Linked DNA regions of Homo sapiens: region 1 is linked to region 2. The links come from fine-mapping of genetic effects on gene expression. A gene starts in region 2. The other region holds a variant in brackets. All regions are shown on one strand. Distances are from middle to middle.

The links. PIP is the estimated chance that this variant, and not a neighbour inherited with it, causes the effect.
Region 1: its variant is the best candidate, but not a certain one, in a credible set for the expression of GLRX5 in CD8 T cells (CEDAR, PIP 0.68).

The regions. Positions count from the first base shown.
Region 1 is chr14:96,435,935-96,446,897 of GRCh38, reverse strand. AK7 (adenylate kinase 7) reads right to left here. Exons shown (of 18, transcript NM_152327.5): 6 at 8,983-9,063; 7 at 4,080-4,168; 8 at 291-381. Among named protein-coding and RNA genes, the nearest start is that of AK7, 49 kb to the right of the region's middle. The variant T/C (reference allele first, on the strand shown) is at 5,325.
Region 2 is chr14:95,528,916-95,539,878 of GRCh38, reverse strand. GLRX5 (glutaredoxin 5) reads right to left here and starts at 4,829. Exons shown (of 2, transcript NM_016417.3): 1 at 4,495-4,829. The coding sequence starts at 4,789. It overlaps SNHG10 (small nucleolar RNA host gene 10), which reads left to right and starts at 5,007. Exons shown (of 1, transcript NR_003138.3): 1 at 5,007-6,967. It also overlaps SCARNA13. RefSeq lists silencers at 4,397-4,456, 4,667-4,956 and enhancers at 5,097-5,556, 4,820-5,609, 5,610-6,399.

The DNA.
Region 1 (10,963 bases), 910 kb before region 2:
CACAATCTTGGCTCACTGCAACCACCGTCTCCTGGGTTCAAGCGATTCTCCTGTCTCAGCCTCCCGAGTAGCTGAGATTACAGGCACCCGCCATTATGCCCGGCTAATTTTTGTATTTTAGTAGAGATGGGGTTTCATCATGTTGGTCAGGCTGGTCTTGAGCTCCTGACCTCAGGTGATCCACCCGCCTCGGACTCCCAAAATGCTAGGATTACAGGCATGAGCCACCGCGCCCAGCCAGCAAAACTATTTACGATATGTCATCAAAGTATGGGATGAAACCACTGTACCTTGACTATGTCTTCCAGGGTATGAACAGACTCATCCACAGCAACCAGGTAGTGAGGCTTTGGCACGTGATCTATGACGTTTTGTATCACTCTGCAGACCCACAGGTAAAATAATCATCAAAGGGAAAAAGCGAAAGAGATGCAGTAAACTAGAATTCACTGACCACCACCCCCATGGCTGGGCGTGGGGTTTGGTGCTTTGATAAGTTATCTCCATTTTCAATACGGTCAGGGTTGGGATGGTTATCTGCATTCTCCACATGAGGAAGATGCTAAAGGGTTCGGTGACATTTCTCAGGCTGAAGAGCTATTGCGAAAGTGGAAGAGCCAGCTTTTGAGGTCAGATGCATCTGGTTCTGGACCTGTCTTCTTTCTAGCATACTGCCCTGTCTCCCAACAAGGGGAACTGCCCCCAGCAGGACCGGCCCCCAGCAGGACCCCAGTTTATGAAGCCCTCCCCATCTAGGGGCTCGTGTGAGCCTCACAACAATGCTTTAGGGAGGTATTTTACAAAGTAAGACACAGATTTAGACAAGCTGTGGCTCTTTAAGGAAGTCACGCAGCAACAGTGCCTGAGCCTGCTTTCCTATCCCAGTTGCCAAGGTTTCCGAGCGCTTGCTTCTGTGCTGAGGGTGGCACAGGTGTGATCCCACTAAATTTTCACAGCCCTAGCATGTAGGTGCTGCTCCTATCCCCGTAAGTAACTTCCCTAAATTCACACAGCTAGTGAGAAGCAGAGCAGGGATTGGAACAAAAATTAAATTCCAGAGAGAAACAACAGTGAATAGATGTCTATCACAATGGCTTGTCAATTCTACCTCCATCTTAGCTTCCTTTCAATAAAATGAAAATAAATCGAATGCACGCTTCCAAATGTGCAGTTCACATTTATTTTGTATTCATTTCTTTTTTTCTATATTTATTTATTTATTCACTCATTTATTTATTTATTTTGAGTCTCGCTCTGTTGCCCAGGCTGGCAGGCAGTGGTGTTATCACGGTTCACTGCAGCCTCAAACTCCCAGGGTCAAGTGATCCTCCCGCCTCCACCTCCCGGGTAGCTGGGACTGCAGGCATGAGCCACCAAACCCGACTAATTTTTGTATTTTTTGTAGAGACAGGGTTTCACTATGTTGTCCAGCCTGGTCCCGAACTCCTCGGCTCAGGCGAACCTCCCACCTTGGCCTCCCACAGTGTTGGGATTACAGGCATGAGCCACTGCACCTAGCCTATTTTCTACCCATTTCTCAGAACATTTCAGCTTTTTGCTTTTTCCTCTGTTAAATATTTGACAATCTTCAAAGAAACCTCTGGGGAAAAAATGCTACTTAAAAGGGTCTGTCAAAAGACAAAATTATAACAAATCTAGTTAAAGATTTCAATGGACTTTATTTGTGATTCTAGAATCAGGCAACATTTCATTCCATAAAATAGAACAAGTGTGTCAGTGAAATGAGCAGAGGCGGGTAGTTTGATAGGCAGAAAGGGCTGCAGAAAGCAGAAACAAAGAACAAAAAGCACATTGGTCATTTCAAAGTTAGTTTCCTTGTAAGGCAGGGACAAGGAGAACAACATAAAGATAACTAATGGGGCTGGGCGTGGTGGCTCACGCCTGTAATCCCAGCACTTTGGAAGGCTGAGGCGGATGGATCACCTGAGATCAGGAGTTCGAGACCAGCCTGACCAACATGGTGAAACCCTGTCTCTACTAAAAATACAAAAAATAGCCAGGCGTGGTGGCCGGCGCCTGTAGTCCCAGCTACTTGGGAGGCTGAGGCAGGAGAATCGCTTGAACCCAGGAGGCGGAGGTTGCAGTGAGCCAAGGTTGTGGCACCGCACTCCAGCCTGGGTGACAGAGCGAGACTCCATCTCAAAAGGAAAAAAAAAAAAAGGAAAGATAACCGATAGGTTAGTACCAGGTTACTTTAGGCTACTTTTTGCCATAAGGATTAAAACACAGAGAGCTTTATTATCATGCCTATTGAAGACTGAAACTGGCTTGTTTGGGAAATTAGCTGTTGTTGCTCTCTTTGGCTTTCTCGAAAGGTCAGGTAACAGCTTAGTTTCAGTTTGGTGACTGGAACTTTGGCATGGGTGACTCCATTTTGATTTTCAGTCTGGTCTGTTGGGGCCTAGTACAAGAACTTACTCCAAAACAATGGCCTCCTATAACTTGTTTTTAACAGGCTCTAAGTCCTTCTGTAATGGCAATCATTTCACCCTCTAATTTATGTTTGGACGTAATATGTTAAGGATTAATGCCAAGTAAGTTATATTAATAATGTAAAAGACTCTTCTGTATCTTTGAAACCCAGTAATGTCATAATGTAAAATCTCTGCAGAAAAAAATGGGTATGTTTCGGCCCCTCCATCCCCAGGGATGGAGCAGATCCAGGGTTTTGTAGTGCCTGAAGCTTAGCCCATTTACAGCAAGCTTGTCAAACCAGGGCCTGTGGGCTGCGTGAGGCCCAGGATGGCTTTGAATGTGGCCCAACACACTTTGTAAACTTTCTTAAAACATTATGAGTTTTTGGGCCGGGCGCAGTGGCTCACGCCTGTAATCCCAGCACTTTGGGAGGCTGAGGCGGGTGGATCATGAGGTCAGGAGATGGAGACCATCCTGGCTAACATGGTGAAACCCCATCTCTACTAAAAAAATACAAAAAATTAGCCAGGCATGGTGGCGGGTGCCTGTAGTCCCAGCTACTTGGGAGGCTGAGGCAGGAGAATGGCATGAACCTGGGAGGTAGAGCTTGCGGTGAACCGAGATTGTGCCACTGCACTCCAGCCTGGGCAACAGAGTGAGACTCCATCTCAAAAAAAAAAATTATGAGTTTTTTTTGTTATTTTTTTTAAAGCTCATCAGCTATCGTTAGTGTTAGTGTATTTTATGTGTGGCCCAAGACAAATCTTCCAATGTGGCCCAGGGAAGCCGAAAGATTGGATATCCCTGACTCATAGGATCCTTCTTTAAGAAAAATAATAAAAATTAGGTTCAGGGTCTTGGAAAGGGATCTGCTCAGGGGTGTGGCCCTGAAGTTTAAACTTCCTTCATTTCCCAGTAAGTCTAGAAATTTATCTGAGATTGTGACTAATTTACTAGTGGCCAGTGGATGAGAGAAAGAGTGGGAATCTGAAAACCAGAACCTCAGGGAAGTGCAGAAATTGCTCCTTTCTGGGGATGTGCCACAGGGGTGACAGAATGAAGTCCCCGGAAGCTGGAGCTGATGAACCACAAACACAGTGAACCAACTCATTGACCTCACGTTTAAGTCAGGGTCTTCAAAGGAAGAGAAGGGTTTCTGGACCTGTCTGAATACAGGGTTTAGATGCTCTGTGAGTATAAAAAACATATGTCAACTTTACCTACAACTGTCAAAGAAGGAAAAAGCTTCAGGTTTACAGTTTTCCATTTGAATTCTAGAATTTAAGTTGACGGGTTAGACATATTAATCTCATCTGGGACAAAGGAATAAGAAACTACGTCCTCAGAATGTACACACCAAGTTCTTTCTTTTCCAAAATTGGAGGGCATTGCTATTCTGTCGATAGTTTCTAAGAGATGAACCTGAACTTGTCACCAGAAATGTAGAACTTTTGAACAGTGGGCACTATTTCATTAGATGCAAAATGGAGAAGACGGTACCTTCTGCATAGGGTTGTTACGAAGAATGAACACAATAATCCATGTAAGGGTCTTAGCACTAGGCAAATGCTCAAAAAGTATTAGGCTACAAACAAACACATTAACCAATTCTGTGAAGGTCACGTCTCTGGGCGAATGCTTACCCTGCTAGATCAAGAACATGGATTGTTGGAATTACATTTGTTCCATCGCCAAAAACTGGTAATGCAGGAATCTCGCCCAACCAAGCCATCTGAAAGGAAGAAAAGCAAAATCATGTCCCCCAGTTATATGTGGATGGCTATTACAGCTCACACATAAGTCTACAGTCAGAGGCAACTGAAAGGCCTAGCTATCTGCTTAAGTAATTTCCTCTAGGGGGTGTTTTATAAATCAGCCCTGATGAGATTTAGGATCAAATTCTGCCAAGAGAAATAGTGTGTAGCCCTGGGACTGAATCAAATTCTGCCAAGAGAAATAATGTGTAGCCCTGGGACTGAATCAAATTCTGCCAAGAGAAATAATGTGTAGCCCTGGGACTGAAATACTTTTCAAGAAATCTACAACCTCTCAGCCGTATTTAGTAGCTATACGCATGGCATTCACATAGAGAAGAAATGTTTTCACATGCATGATGTCTTAATTCTCACAAAAAGACAAATTAAAATTTAAAATTACCCCCACCAGTAGGGATGAGGTGAGGGGAAATAAGTACCATCAGTCCAGGGGTGAAATGCTTAGCGGATAAGTAGCATGCAGGAGGATACACTTGTGAGAGCTTGGACTGGAACCCCGATCCTCAGAGTCCAAATCCTCATCTTTTCTTCTCATTAAGTATTTCAGTAACCAAACAGACATGATGAGTACTGTTTAAGTGTCACATATTAGATTATTTTGAATTGTTGTTAAGAGTGAAAGAGGTAGGGGTAGGGGTCACAGTAGACCACTGGGTCTTGTAAGATATTTTGGACTTTCAGAAAGTATTGAAGGGTTCTAAGCAGTGATGTGACACCAGCAGGCTTGCTTTTGTTGCCTTGTGGAGAAGTGGCGGGAAGGAGAGTCCAGTGGGGACAGAGGGGTGATGGCAGGTGTGCAGGCGAAATAGGGTAGCTTAGCCTGGAGGTGGGAAGTGCAGGGAGTGGGGATGGAGAGAAGGGAGACATTGAGGAGGCTGACTGTAGTAACTGGGAATTTTATGATGGGTAATGTGAAAGGAAAATAAACCTTGGGACCCCAAAATCACTAAGCCAAAGGGAAAAGTCAAGCTAGGAACTACATAAAGCAAACCTGTCTCTCATTCAAAGATTTTATTTTGTTTTCTTTTTTTTTTTTTTTTTTTTGAGACGGAGTCTTGCTGTGTCACCCAGGCTGGATGGAGTGCAGTGGCAGGATCTCAGCTCACTGCAACC[T/C]CTGCCTCCCAGGTTTAAGTGATTCTCCTGCCTCAGCTTCCCGAATAGTTGGGATCACAAGCATGTGCCACCACACCTGGCTAATTTTTGTATTTTTAATAGAGATGGGATTTCACCATGTTGGCCAGGCTGGTCTCGAACTCCTGACCTCAGGTGATCTACCCGCCTCAGCCTCCCAATATGCTGGGATTACTGGCGTGAACCACCATGCCTGGCCTCATACCTTCCTCACAATTTGCCCACTATGAAATTATCTGTAGGCCCCAAGAGCTTTACCCGAAAACAGTTCTGTTGAATTTCACCCTGACAATGTAAATTGACAGCTTATCTTCACAGGTACAGGACAAGGACAGAACTCAAAGTCATCCCTAGGCTCACCTGACACAAATGCCTATCTGATTGCTTCCTCGGCCCTATGTCTATTTTATCTTACATAAAAATGCAGATTCGCTGAGCTAGATAAATGCATAAGTGACTATTCCTCTACCCTTCCCTCATGTCGAACAGCTGATCAAAGACTCAAAAGAATGTGCCCGCTTGCCTCTTATCTACCCACACCTTTTATTTATTTTTTGCAGATGCAGGGTTTCACCATGTTGCCCAGGCTGGTCTCAAACTCCTGGGTTCAAGCCATCCACTCACACTGGCCTCCGAAAGTGCTTTACTGGGATTATAGGCATCAGCCACCATGCCTGGCTTACCCACATCTTTAAAAAATTTCTTCCTCTTTCTCTAATATCTACCCTTTTCCCTTTAAATATTGAAGCACTCAAAGTCATCTTTGGAGAAAGGCACAGGCCTATCTCCTGGGCGTGCATCCTTAACCTTGGCACAATAAACTTCTAAATTGATTGAGACCTGTCTCAGAAACTTTTTGGTTTGCAGTAAGGAGGGAGGAGTTGGATTCTGATCATGTAGCTGGTTGGAGGGTTACCCCATTTTCTGAGATGGGGCCTTGGAGGAGGAGCAGGTTTGGGGATGACTGTAGGTATAGTTTGGATTTGGGAAAGACATCCAAGTTGAGGTGCTGAGTAGGCAGCTGGACCTACAGAGCTAGAACTTAGGAGAGAGAGCCTCGCTGGAGACTGAAGTTTGAGTCATTGGTATCAGTCATAGGAATAAACAGACCAAGGGAGAGAGAGCAGAGGGTGAAGAAAAAAGGTCTAGGGCCGAGGCCTGCGAATGCCAAGATTCAGTGAGCAGGTAGGTGAGAAGTAGCTGAGAATGGACAATGAGTAAGAGCTTCCTTGAGCTTCTCCTCTGCAACTGTCATATCTCTTGTATTAAAAAAATCAGTTCGAGGCCGGGCACGGTGGCTCACGCCTGTAATCCCAGCACTTTGGAGGCTGAGGCGGGCGGATCACGAAGTCAGGAGTTCAAGACCAGCCTGGCCAATATGGTGAAACCCTGTCTCTACTAAAAATACAAAAATTAGCTGGGCATGGTGGCACACACCTGTAATCCCAGCTACTCGGGAGGCTGAGGCAGGAGAACTGCTTGAACCCAGGAGGTGGAGATTGCAGTGAGTTGAGATTGCACCACTGCACTCCAGCCTGGGTGAAAGAGTAAGACTCCTTCTTTAAATAAATAAATACATAATAAATAAATCAAATAAAAATTAAAAATCAGTTCAACCAACCTCTCTTGACTACACTTTATCCTTTAACTCCGCCTTCTTTCTTTGCACCCCCCTCCTTTTACAGGAAAATTCCTTGAAATATTTCTCTGTTCTCATTGTCTTCAATTCCCCTCCAGCTGTTCCTCTTGAACCTGCGGCTGTTAGACTTTTGTCCTACCTAGTGCCAAAAAATTTAGCGGTCAATTTGTAGGTTTCATCTTAGTTGATTATCTGCAGTATCTGACACAATTTGTCATTCTTTCTTTTTAAAAACTTTTTTTTTTTTTTTTTTGAGATGGAGTCTCGCTCTGTCACCCAGGCTGGAGTGCAGTGGTGCAATTTCGGCTCACTGCAAGCTCCGCCTCCTCGGTTCACACCATTCTCCTACTTCAGCCTAACGAGTAGCTGGGACCACAGGCTCCCGCCACCATGCCCGGCTAATTTTTTGTATTTTTAGTAGAGACGGGGTTTCTCCGTGTTAGCCAGGATAGTCTTGATCTCCTGACCTTGTGATCCGCCTGCCTTGGCCTCCCAAAGTGCCGGGATTACAGGCGTGAGTCGGCCAAAAATATTTTTTTTAATAATTATTTACTTTTCTCTTATTTCCTCTCCTGCTTCCTGCCCACCCTTCTCAACCTCCTTTCCTAATTCCTTCCCATTTCCCTATAACCTCCAATATTGGAGGGTTCCAAGACTCAGTCCTCAGGCCCCTATCTCTTCTCCATATTCATTCAGTAGTTGATGTCATCCAGTCCCAAGGATTTAAGTACCCACTGTATACTGACAGCTCCCATGATTATATCTCCAGACCTGACCTCCCCCATGATCACCAAACTCTTTTTGTCCAATAGCCTTCCCAGTATCTATACTTGGATATTAATTATCTCAAACTTCCTGAACTTTTCATTGCATTGTACCCCAACCAGCTCCATTCCCTGTCTTCCCCATTTCAATAAGTGGCAGTGCCATACTTCTAGTTGCTTAGACCAAAATCCTTAAAGTTATCCTTTACTATGTTTCTGTCATCCTTACATCCAAGCTTTGAACAAATCCCATTGACTCTCTCTTCAAAATACGTCTGAAATCTGAACAGTTTCCAGTATCCCCACCATGCCCACCCAGGTCTTAGGCACTACCCTGCTCACTGGTTTCCTTGCTTCCTGCTCCTGCCCATGCCCCAAATAGTACATCCTCAGCACAGCAGAAGGAGAAAGCTGTCCTTTTATATCATATGGATTATGTTGCTTCTGTGCTCAGTCTAATGGTTGTCCAACTCACTCAGAAAGAAAGCCAGAGCTTCACGAGGGGCTACCAGGCTGGGCTTGGTCTGACTCTCTCATTACCGCTTTGACCTCATTACCGCTGTTCTCCCATACTTCAGCTAGATTGATCTAGATTGGTCTTCAAATGTAGCCAGCACATTTCTGCCTCACTTCTTTGCAGTAACAATTCTCACTGTCTGGGATGTCTTTCTCCAGAAAGCCGATTAGCCAGCTCCTTCATTGCCTTTCCCTTCCTACTCAAATGTCACATCGTTGGAAAGACCTTCCTCAACCTTCCTATATAAGATATAACAGCCCCAATCCCCGCAACCTTACTCCCCAGCACTCTCTGCCTTTCTCTGCTCTGTTGTTTTCCATACCCTGTTTCAACATCTGAAATACTCAACATTTACCGGCTTGCTTATTATCTATCTCTTTCTCCATCCCCCTAGAATGTAAGCTTCGCAAGAGGAGGGACTTTATTATTTTACTGTATCCCAAGTACCTACAACAGTTTCCAGCACCTGATGGGCACTACATCAATATCTGTTTCATGAATGAAAGGAGATACGTCTTTTTCATTATTATTTTGAGAGTGGTGAATACAAGTTAATAATGGGAAAGAAACGTAGGTCTTTGTGGTGACATCCATACTTGCCTTCATCTTCTGCTATTCTACTGCACTAACCACACCCAAAGCAATCAAAAACACCTTCAAATTGCGTATCTGTATCGTAAGACACTTTTAAACATTCCACGTCATCATTGAAAGCCATACCTTAAAAAATGTGTGTAACATGCCTCCTTCCGCTCCATACTGGAGTCCAGCAGCAACTACGTATGCTGCAAATTTTCTGGCCTATTAGATAAAATACAGAAAAAAAAAGCTGGATGTAATATTATTAGTCATACTGAACCAGATTATTTTAGTAGTTAAAATGAGCACTTTCAGAACTTCCGTCAACTCTTGCAGGTTACTGAGTATTGTTCGGGATACAAATCCTATCTCTTAAAGAGAGAAACGACACCCCCGCACTATTCAGGAATACCTCTGACTACTATTAAAATTTAACAAGGACTCCTAATTAAATTAAAGCCAGGGTTTTTGTGAAAACTTTGTACCTGTAAGCTCTATGCTCGGCACTGAGGGGGAAAAGAGAAAGAAAAACAGGTCTTTCCACGAGGATCTTTAATGATCTAGTACCTGAAACCAAGAAGCTGGTAATGGGCCTTAACACAAGGATGGAAATTCACATGGATTGTCCACTTCACTCTGGACAAGCAGTTTAGGCACTGTAAGAACTGGAGTCAGTATTCCTTTATTTTTAATTTTTAATATTTGTGGGTACATAATAAGTATATAGATTTATGGGGGTGCATGAGATGTTTTGATACAGGCATGCAATGTGAAATAAGCACAACATGGAGAATGGGGTATCCATCCCTTCAAGCATTTATCCATTGAATTACAAACACTCCAATTATACTCTTTAAGTTATTTAAAAATCTATAGTTCAGTTATTACTGACTATAGTCTCCCTGCTGTGCTATCAAATAGTAGGTCTTATTCATTCTTTCCAACATTTTTTGTACTCATTCACTATCCCTCCCTCCCCCCACCCCCTACTACCCTTCTCAGCCTCTACTCTCTGCCTCAATATTTAACCAGATAAGCTCAAAATACCATCTTTATTATTGATATGAGTTCTGCTGGAGGCCATGCCTTAGGTGAGCCATGATGATGAGCTTCCTAACCCTGAATCCAGAATAAGATGAACTTTTCCAACCAGTCCCAGGCCACACTGGACAGCGAGGGACTCCTCCACATGGCGGCCTGCTGCTGTAAGTCTCAGGGCATGAGGAAGGTGAAATGCACAGTAGCCACCATCCCTGGAGTCCCAGAGAGAAGGGAAGGAGGAGGGGCCAAGCTCACATGGCCAGGCCCTCCTCAAACCCACCAATCAGAAAACTCGCTTGAACTTCTTCAGGCGAACAGGGGATGGTGCAAGAAGACAGGAGTTTTTTGTTTGTTTGTTTGTTTGTTTGTTTTGAGACAGAGTTTCACTTGTTGCCCAGGCTGGAGTGCAGTGGCATAATCTAGGCTCACTGCAACCTTGGCCTCCTGGGTTCAAGTGATTCTCCTGCCTCAGCCTCCCAAGTAGCTGGGATTACAGGTGAGAACCACCATGCCCAGGTAATTTTTGTACTTTTAATAGAGACAGGGTTTCCCCATGTTGGCCAGGCTGGTCTTGAACTCCTGACCTCAAGTGATTCACCTGCCTCGGCCTCCCAAAGTGCTGGGATTACAGGTGTAAGCCACTGCGCCCGGCCTACAGGAGTTTTTAGGAAGAATGTTACTCAGGCTCTTGTGGGAAGGTAGTGATCTCACCTCACAAATATTAGGCCTGAAAAGGAGGACTTAACCACAAATACAATAGAGATTTTAAAAATTGTAAGACAGACTTAAGGACAACTTTCTGTCAATTGATTTGAAAATTTAGCCTAAAGGGCTCATTTCTTGCCCCCAAACACCTGTTAACTGCCTTCCCACAGTCCAAGACAGTTTTTCAACCAAAGTCTACCAAACAGTCAAAAGATAATCCCAGAGGCAGGGCAAGATGGCGGGATGGAAATCTCCCCTGCAAGGACAACAATAACTACCTACACAGAAAAAACAGCTTCATAAGAACCAAAAATCAGGTGAGCCCTCACAGTACCTATTTTAACTTCATATCGCTGAAAGAGGCACTGAAGAACCA
Region 2 (10,963 bases):
TATTGAGTTAAGGATTACTGAGTTTCATACTCTTTAAGCGTTTTACAAAAATAATCTTATTTAATCTTTACAAAAATCTGACAAGGCAGGTACAATTATCCCTACTTTACATAAGATGAAGAAACTAAGGCTCAGAAGGGTTAAGTAACTTACCGAAACTCACAGTGACAGCGCAGTGAAACCAGGATTTATATCCAGGCTTCCAGGAGTACAAAAGCCCAGACTCTTAACCACATGCTACCTGAGTCCCTCACCAGAGGTGGCCTCTACCCTCTAGCTGCCATCTCACTCCTGCCCAGGAGCTACAAGTGCACTGCACACATATCTGCAATATATGGGACTGTTTTATGCCTTTAACATTTACATATACAAATGGTATTATGCCATAATTACGTGTTTGCAACTTGCTTTTTGACTAAATATTGTATTTTTGAGATTCAGCCATGTTAAATACATCTAGATCTAGTTCATTTTAACTACAGTTTAGCTTTCCATCATGTGACTAAAGTTTATTTATCTGGTCTGCTGCTAATAGACCAAGATCCCTTCCTGTCAGTTTTTCATTATTGCAAGCCATGCTGCAATGAACGCGCCAACACAGGTATCCTAACACAGAGGTCCCCAACCTTTTTGGCACCAGGGACTGGTTTTGTGGAAGACAATTTTTCCACGGACCAGGGAAGGGTGGGGATAGCTTCGGGATGAAACGGTTCCACCTCACATCATCAGGCATTAGTTACATTCTCGTAAGGAACGCACAACCTAGATTCCTCACATGTGCAGTTCACAATAGAGTTTGTGCTCCTATGAGAACCTAATGTCGTCACTGATGTGGCAGGAGGCGGAGCTCAGGCGGTAAAGCTCACTTACCCACCGCTTACCTCCTGCTGTAAGTCCTCGATCCCTGGCCTGGGGGTTGGGGACCCATGTCCTAACACACACATGCAGAAGTCAGTCTCTAGGCCAGGGACAGATAAACTATGGTCTTCAGGCCAAATCCAGTCTACTTCGTAATTAAAGCTGTATTTTCATAAATAAAGTTTTATTGAAACTCAGCCTGCTCATTCATCTACATATTGCCCATGACTGACTTCAGGCTATATAACAGCAGAGTTGAATAGATGCAACAAAAACCACACAGCCCACAAAGCCTGACGTACTTAGTCTCTGGCCCTTTACTAGGGTAAGTTTGCAGATCCCCCTCTCTAGAATATATACCTAGGAGTCACGCAGCTGGGTCTTAGGCTCTGTTCACCCATAGCTTGACTGGGTACTGATAGTTACTCCTCCAAAGTGTTGGTACCATTTTATACTCCCATCTGCAGCATACATGTGCACCACACAAGCACATACACACAACTTGTTATCCAACTTTTAAGGTTCACCAGCATGACATGTTTCACTACTGTCTTCAATTCCCTGATACTGAAAAGGTGGAGCGTATTTTCAAATGCTTAATAAACATTCAACAACAGGATATGGTTATTTATTCAACAAATCATTTGAGTCCCTATTCTGTCACTGTTCCAGATGCAAGGACTACAATGATGATCTAAATCGGCAGCAAATGTTTATAATGCCTTTAAGGCCGCAGAGTTTGCAATATAATGATAAATAAAAGCAGTATTTATTTATTTATTAAAATGCTCACTGAAAGCTTGCTTTGCATAAGCGGTACACACAGCACCACAGGCAGTGGCATAAGACATATTCCCTCGTCTCTGGAGGGCAAAATACTATGTATAGACAAGCATGGTCTCAATGTGTTAAAAAAAAAAAAACTGTTAGGAACTAGATCTAAATGTTAATACAATAGTTTCCATAAATTACAGGTGATTTTCCTTCTTTAAACTTTTCAGTGTTTTCTACATTGCTTCCATGAGCATAAGTTCCTTTATTAAGACCAGGATTAGGAAATGATGATGTCAGTCTACTGGGACCTGATCCCTTTGTGACTGTCTTCTGTGTGCACTCCAGATAAAAAGAGAAGGACAAGAAGGTCTTGAGAAGGCCAGAACACAATGCTGCCTCATAGTCACCTTTGTTCCTTGGGTCACAGTCTCAAGATGTGTCTGTATCACACTCCTGGGAACCCAGTACTCAAAACTAGGAAAGAATGTTTTCCTCCGGTTTAGGCACTTTGTAAAGTTCAGGTCTCCTTGGCATAAGAACCAACAAAAGGCCAGTTTTGCAAGAGCTCCGTTCCTATTACTAGAAATGACCTTGGATCTGGTGTACAAACATAGTTTCGGCTGGCAAAAGCAAGCATCGGACAGCCCGTTAGTTGCTCTTGGTAAATAAAGCTGTATAGGGAAGAGGGGAAGAGTCTTAATAACCTGGCTGAACTAATCCCCATTTGGGGAACGTGCTTTTACCACCCTGCCCAGTCCAAATGTTAATACTTACTAATCTTTACTTTTCTAATCAATAAAAGAGGTATGTTATATTCAATATATATGCAACGCGTTTATTAACCAAAATAGCAATCTGATGAAACTCAGTGGTCAAGGAATGTAAGGGTTAAATTCCTGTCGCTGCTGTTTGAAAACTTAAGAAAGTAAGCTCAGAAACCAGACACCAGACGTGGATAAAAGACAGAAAAATAAAATGTTATCAGTACATATTCGTATTTTTGCTCCTATTTTCCGTTTACTAGCTATATTCCAGCATATCTCATTTCCAGTTATATTAAACAAGAGAAAATAAATTCACAAACCAAAGACCCTCGAAACATGATACTAAGCGAGATAACAACACCACTTTTTTACTAGTGCCATATTGGCAATTTGCAGGGGACTCCCTGCAAGGTCTCTGTCAAAAGACTGCAAAATAGTTACTCCTCTTTTAAGCAGAGAAGCTGTCTTCGAAGGAAGACTGCAGGTCCCTTGCCTTGCACATGATAAAACTGAGCCCAGTAACTGGTGGCATACTAGTTGACAAGGAAGACAAAAGGGTCATGAGAATAACACATGGTAATATTACATATACGTGGTAATTTGAACCTGCCCTCTCGACTCCTCAACTCAACATGCTTTCTAGGTCCCACCCACCACCACTATCACCTACAGCAAATGGAGGATCAGTTATCCCCAAGAGTCTTTAAGGACTAGATAATCTGGGAAAAAATACATTTGAAAACCATCAAGTGCTAATACGAAGCCAGCTACCATTTACCGGGTGCTTTCTGTGCCAGGTAAAATAATACACACTTTCTATAATTTTTACTTTGGCTTCCTAACACAAACTTTGCCAAATTGTCTCATTATCCTCAAATGCAGGTGAGTGACTTAAGTTTTACACCTGATTAGCCACAGAAGAGGATGTCAACCCAAAGCTTTTCCAAACACCAGCCTGTCTCATCATTGTAAGCAATGACTATGATTAGTAATTTCGAATTTAGAGTAACAGAGAACCTGGCACCTATTTTTAGCACACAACTGGCACCTCTTTTTAGCTAGGGACATGCAGGGACTCAGTCACTGAAAGTCTCTAACTGGGATGCAGGTATCCTAAGTCACTCTCTAGAAGGAAAAGGTACAGCCTTCCCAGTTTTCCACCAACCCTGACCATCCTGGCCAAGGAGCAGGCCCTTGTGCCTGGCCTCTTCCTCCTCCCCTACTCAGATAAGACTGGCGAATGCACGTGGAGTACTTGGAAAAGATGCTTATTAGCTGCAGCCTTCCCTCTCCCGGCCTAATCCATCTGGTCCCTGGTGCCCTGGCCCCCTGGGCTCCAAGGCTGAGCCAGTGAGTTAGCCCAGGGCCCAGGAGCCAGGGCTGCTTCTTTTCCCCACAAACCTCTCCAAGCCCTGGCCCACATAAATTCAGCCCTGTGCTTGAGTATCTAAAGCCAAATGTCATGACTCTTCCCCGACAACATAGATCCCGACTAAGGTCAGCCGACAGCTGTCCCAACCCTTTGCTTGTAGCAACCACAGAGGATGATGCTTGACACCCTGAGCCGTGAGCCAAGCGAGATCAGCCTCCGACCTCACTAGCCTCAAGGGCAACCTCAGCCCTCTCCCCACCATCGACAGCCCTAGACCTTACCCACGAGTAGGCCAATGGCTTCCAACCTCCCCAAAGTGTCCGCGAAAGTACCTATCTCACAGTGGGTCCTTACTATGAGTTTCCTAACCGTGCAGAGCAGTCAGGCAGCGGGCCACCCTCCTCCGAGTCAGTCATTGACAAATCGCCCCGAAACGCCTATATTAGCTCGAAGTGAGGATAAGTGAACCTTTAGGACTTTACCTACTGCTCAAGTTGGCAACAGTACAGAGCCCCAGATCCTCAAGACCCAGTGAAATCAACTACACCCTCAGCCCAGACTCTACTCCAGGGCAGTACTCCTCGCCCTAACCCGGCTCGAACCTTCAGACAGACCCCGGCGGATGGAGCCCCGCTCCCCAGCCCGGCGCGGCGGAACCCCTCGGCCTCGTGCAGCGATGCTCCTGGGCCCGGGGCGGAGGGCGCCTGCCCGGCACACTGGCCTGACCTTGTCGGAGCTCCGGGTCGTCCAGCACGTTGTAGGCCGCGTAATCGCGGACGCCGTGCAGCCGCAGGATCTGCACCACGGCGTTGCTGAAGCCGCACTGGGGCTGCTCCGGCGTCCCCTTGAGGAAGACCACCACCTTGTCCTTCTTCACCAGCGCGTCCAACTGCTCCGCCGAGCCGCCGCCGCCCGCGCCCGAGCCCGCCGCCCGCACGCCCGGACCCCAAAGGCCACCGCCGCCCGCGCCGCGCCCCCAGCGGAGCAGAGCCGCCGCAGCTCGGCCGAGGGACCCGCTCATCTCCGCACGCAAGCCGGAGCCCACGACGGCCCGGGCCCACAGCTGGCCACCCAGAGCGCTCCCCGGCCCGCGGCAGTCCGACCCGCCCCCTGGAGGCCCTCATTGGGCCGGCTCTAAACTGCCCTCCGTGATTGGACAATACTGATCAGTAATTACTCGATTCCACCAATCATGTTGCTCGTCCCGCCCGGCAGGTAGGAGGTGGGCCTTATGCCGGAGCCTCATCCTACTGCCTTACTATTGGTCGTCGGCAACCGCTTTGTTAGTTAATTGGAGAGACTGGATGTCCATCAGGGTCACGCTTGCAGGGCAACGAGAGGCAAAACAAGAGGGAAGACGACTTTCCTCCTGTGAGCCAATGAGGCCAGCTGGACTACGCCGAGACAACTGGGAGAGGCGCGGGACTCGCCCGTTCCGCGGAACGCCGGGAAGGGGTCACCTCCTGATGAAGTTTCCGGTTCCGGTGTCAGCGGCGGTTGAATTGCCATGGCAATGCGGTGGGCGCGCGCTTGTCGTGTTGGTCTCTTGGGAGGTAGCGGGGCTAGGCCGGGCGGGTATCCGCCTCTCCCAGCTTAGGTGAGCGTCCCCGGGCGCCTCCGGAGCGCCGCGGCCGCATGCAGTTCGTCGTGGCGGGGAGCCGGAGCCTGACCGGGGTTCCAGCGCTCGGGCCGTAGCCTTGGCTCCTGGACTTTCCCTGGCTCCGCCGCCACGTGGGAGCTGAGGCTCTGGGGCTTCCGCCTCCGGCGCGCGATTATTTCTCTAGAACAGTTTTCATTTTTAAAATTTGTAAAGCGCTTTTGCCTGTGTGATTTCCTCTGGGTTTTTTTTTTTTTTCTTCCTTTTTGTAGAGACGGAATTGGCGGCGGGGGCGGGGGGTCGATGTCTCACTTTTTTGCCCAGGCTGGTCTCGAACTCCTGGCTTCAAGGGATCCTCCTGCCTCGGCCTCTTAAAGTGCTGGGATTACAGGCGTGAGCCACCGCCCCCGGCCGCCTCTGAGTTTCCAGCCTCGTTGGCCCTCCAGCCTTTTAACCTGTTGGGCCTAGGATCAGGAAAGGTTTGTTGAATGGGGAACTAAGAAGTGAATTCGTTCGTTCGACAAACGTTTCCTGAGCAGCCGCTGGGTGCTAGGCGCAGTGCCAGCGCGGAATGTCCAGGGAGACCTGGTGCCCAAAGCTTGGACCCATCGTGAGAAATGAGAAGCAGATACAAAGCAGTGTGGGAGTGCAGAGGAGACAAAGCAAGCCTCATCAGGCCCATTGCTTGCTCTGCTCTCCCTTGTACTTACCAGTGCTTGACAATATACAGTTATTTACTAGCTTGGTTATTGACTTCCTACCCAGCACTCAGTTTTATTCACTGCTGTATCCTCAGTGCCTAGGACGATGCTTGGAACGTGGTAAGTGCTCCTATTGGCGGGAAGAATAAATCCGGAAGAGCAGGACCAGTGGACTTGCTACATAATCTGTAGTCTTGGAGCCGCACAGGGTTGGTGGTACCCTCGAGCACACCAGACTTGCAGAAAAAGCATACTCCAGAGGAAGCTGAGGCATGCCTGCTCGAGAGCCAGCTGTTCCATGTGCAATTTTCCTCTGATAGTTTCTGGTCACTGTTGCCACGGTGATAATGACTGGGCTATGTCATTATCTATCCGCCAACAGTAAGAGAAGCTTTGCAGTCGAGATATTGTTTAGCAGATGGAGTGTTTTCTGTTGAACACTAAGTACTGCCACAAGTTACTTTTTTTTTTTTAAACTTTGAGTATTTTTTTACAATGTTGCTGGAGGTGATCTGTTTATGCTTTGAGAGTGTTCGAATTTAAAATCAGAAAATCATGTCAGTGAGTGAGTCTTTCAAATAATCCTTCGGCATGAAACCTGAGCCTAGTAAACTATGAAAGTAAACTCGGCACATTACCCGAAAGTCTCAATGTCATATTTTCACCCCCATCAATATTATTGATGATTGCTCATTTTCTAATGTGGGACCTGAAATTTACCAGGTGCTTAAAGAATCTTTTTGTTTTTCAGATTCATTGATTCCAGGTAAATCAGAGGAACAAGCAACATGAACAGAAATATGTAGAAAAAGCTATTATGCAGAAGCATAATTGTTGTTTCAGAAGTCCAGCATCTGGTGCACTTAACAATAGAGAATATATTAAACTCTTTCCAAAATAACCTGTTGTTCCTACCTGTGTTGTAAGTGTTTTGTTTGTTTTTAAGTAAATATTGGTGATTTGTTGCCAAAAACCTAAACTGTTTGTTGCTGTCAACTTAAATAACGAACAGAGAGAGGCTCTCTAAAAGAAAATGGCATTTATTCAGGAATAGAGCACTGCAATGAGAAAATGCATGCGATAGTTAACTGTGTGTATCCTGGGAGATAGAGGAAGACAAAGGTCTTTAAAGGAAAAATGAGGAGGGTTACATAATTGTTTTGAGATAATTATTTTTGACTACAAGGATCAGTAACAAAGGTGACACCAGTCCCAGGTTGGACAGGCAGGTGCTCGGCAGGCATTGCAGAAGTATTTTTTGTGTAAGATTGAGATGGCCTTTGTGCAGGATTGTGGTTTTGGAATCTTCTGTGATCGTTTTTGCTATCAGGCATTTATGCTTGCGAACTCTTTATGGCCTTCCCTGTGTCTATTTTGATTCCACCTTTCTCATTGCCCACTCTAAACTGTAATTCTGCTTTTATGTTGACTGAGATCAGGAGAAGAATTTGCAAACTTATATCCTGAGACAGAACAGTAATGAGGAGTATCGTGTTCCTTACCTAATGTATAATATTGGGCTCAGAAGCAGTTGTCTTTTTTATTTGTTGAACGTTGTATTAAGTTGAGAATGCAGCTGCCATTAAAGATTAAGAGTAATCCTTGAGAAGGAAGAGTACAAAGCCTGTGTTTTGCTAAATCATAGTGAAGTTGCCGTGTTTTTGTAGAATATGATAAGAACATACAGTGTGTGAAATGCTAAGGATATGGAAAAGCATGTTGGTGCTCTTTCAAGGAGCTATTTTGATAGCATGAGCAAGGGCAGGAAACAGATCATGTATCTGAACCAAAGAAATTGAAACAATACATCTAAATTTAAATTTTTAATAAAACAACCCAAAATATAGTGAAATACTTAGCACCAAACATCAGTGATCTTAAGAAGCAAAGAAAACAGTATTCAAAATACTTCGTCCAAAGTATCAGACTTTTGCATAAAGTTTGGCATTTTGGTTTTGAGATTCCTCTTTAGTCCTATGATGAAAACATGACAAAATATACATCTTAAATAAACAGTTGTCATCAGTCTGCATCTATGACCAGATGTTTTGGGTGTTTTGAGTAAATGGCCTGTCTTAGCATGTGATGGCTTCCTGCCTCGTGAACATTAGTGAAGAGGTGAGGGTGGGAAGTACTCAGGAACTTCTGAGAATCCTGGGATTTGAGTCACAGGATTGGTTAAACCCCAAACTAAATAATCATGCCGTGTAAACATGCTGACTCAGGCATCCTAAAAATGTTTTTCTTCCTTGTGTTTATTTATAGATAAGGCTTTACTATATTTGGTAGAACTCCTGTTTTCTATCCACTTCTCCAAAAACAAATTCGCCATTGAATTCATCGTGTAAACCTCCACATATCTGAGATAGCTTCTTCCGTTTATCAGCCCCAAATGAAGAACTAGAGTTCAGATTATTGAACTGAAGGTGATGCTTTATCTGAGCACTCCACATGTCAGTGTTTCTGTACCTTTACTTTTTTAAAAAATTATTTTTTAAAAAGATGAGGTCTCAGTAGGTTGCCCAGACTGGTCTCCAACACCTGGTCTCGAATACTCCTCCCGCCTTGCCCTCCCAAAGTGCTAGGGTTACAGGTGTGAGCCGCCGCACTGGCCCTGTTCATTTTATGCTCAGTGCTGCATTCTTGTTTGTTCTTAGAAAATGAGAGGGTGTGTTTGCATGAGAACGTGTGGTACAGAAGTGTCTATCTGAGCTGGCCAGAACATTCTGCAAATGTCATATTAAGGGCAAAATGGCTGCTTGGATTGTACAAGGGGCCGAACCACCACGCATTCCTAAGCTAAAATAGCAGATTCTATTGACCTGAGCTGGAACCTGAAAGCTTCCTCTGTGATGCACTGAGCTATCATCTAGTAGTTTTAGAGCATCACTGCAACCCTGGAACTACCTGGATTCCCTGATAACACCAAAAATAATGTAATGTATAAGAAACTGAAGCAAAATGCAGCCCTCAGAATTTTTCTAGTCCCTATTGTGGAGATAGAAATGCTTGTTGGATTTCGACTACCTCTATCTGACAAGGCAGCTGGTTTATTAATACTTCTTTGGCCGAGGCTTTGCTCATCCCTGCCGCCCACATCTTGGAGACAGGAAGGCAGGCCAGCCTCCACTGTGTCACACAAGTCCTGCTCCCTTCACCTGCCCTGAGTCACTGGGTCACTGAAGAGAAAGGGCATGCTGTAGATCTGGTTAGTTCAGTCTAGAATAGACCGTGGGAGATAGGTGAGCATTTATGAAAAGCCCAGATGCCATGACAACCCAGTTTTGTCCTGGAATTTGGGTGGAGGTGTAGTCCTGGGTTCTGGTCTTAAACGTCGCTGAGTACTTGAGTTCTTTTTGATTTTCCTCAGATTTTTCCACATCTATTTTCCCCTTTCTGGATTTTGGAAAAATCCAAATTGATGTCTGCCGAAGTTTGTATATAATTGAAGAATTTCTTCATATAAAGGCTGCAGCGTTGTAAGAAATCTGTGTGTACTTTCTCTGCTCATAAATATTTACCCCCAAATGTTATCATCTTGCATAGATTGTACTTTTTTGTTAAATTTTTGTGTGTATACATGAATTCATTCGAAGCATACATTAACCCTAGGATAACAGTTCTCAGACATTTTGGTCTCCAAATTATGTTTTTTTCTAATATAATATGTTGATAGACATTAGCACTTGTGTCTCTAAGTTTTGTTGCCTTCACATGCAATTTCTGTTTTCCTGCTGATTCATAGCATCACCAACAAGTCCTGTAGAAAATCAACTATCCCAGTTATCTTTGCTGGCTCTGCATATATACTAGATACACAGATGATTTTTGGGCTTTGTAAATTAAAATGACAAAAGTTCAATCCAGAGATCTAATAGCTGGACGTGGTGGCTCACATCTGTAATCCCAGCACTTTGGAAGGCCAAGGCGGGCAGATCACCTAAGGTCAGGAGTTCAAGACCAGCCTGGCCAACATGGCGAAACCCCATCTCTACTAAAAATACAAAAAATTAGCCGGACGTGGTAGCGGGCACCTGTAATCCCAGCTGCTTGGAGACTGAGGCAGGAGAATTGCTGTAACCCAGGAGGCGGAGGTTGCAGTGAGCTGAGATCTCGCCACTTCACTGCATACTCCAGCCTGGGCAACAGAGCGAGACTCCAACTCAAAAAAACAGACAAACACACAGAAAACCAAAAATCTAATAAAAAAAAATCTAAGCCTATAGCCTGCTGTTTCTGAAAGCTATGTTCCTCTTGTCCCCACGCTGCTTTCTCGCATTGAGGGCCAAGCTCCTCGGCTGCGTGCCTTGAAAGTCATACACCTGTTGGATTTCATTCTGTTGCAAGCCTTATTTAATAACAAGGACATGGGCCTGAATCATATCTCCCGGAAAGTGGTATTGAGAATTAAGTGGTAATCGTAAAACTTGTTAAGCCTTTTGGTTAAAGGTGATGAAAGAATTGTTTATTTTCCCCAACTGCCTGTTTAATGGCAGTGTTTTGTAGTATTATGTGTTTCTTTTTTTTTTAACCAGCAGATAGTTTCTATAACTCAAATTATTACATTCCAGAGACCTGAAAAGGTCCCTAGATCGCAGAATAGAAAGAGTAAGGAGGCAGTGCTGTTGTGTATCCAACCTGTTAGGAAGATTTATCTGTTAGCAGAAGTTTATGTCTCCCTCTGATAGTCACTGAGTTTGCAGCCAGAAGAACATTTAGGAAATTTAATTGTTTTCTTTTGAATAATTGCTAAGATGTATTGCCAAGGCCATAAATACACTTTATCATGAGTCAGAATTTCACTTTGTACTTCAGTCTTTGAGCTTTAATAATTTCATGCCTTCAAAATGCAGTCTTGCTATTGTGGGAACCCATTGCTCCAGCCTTCTTCAATCGT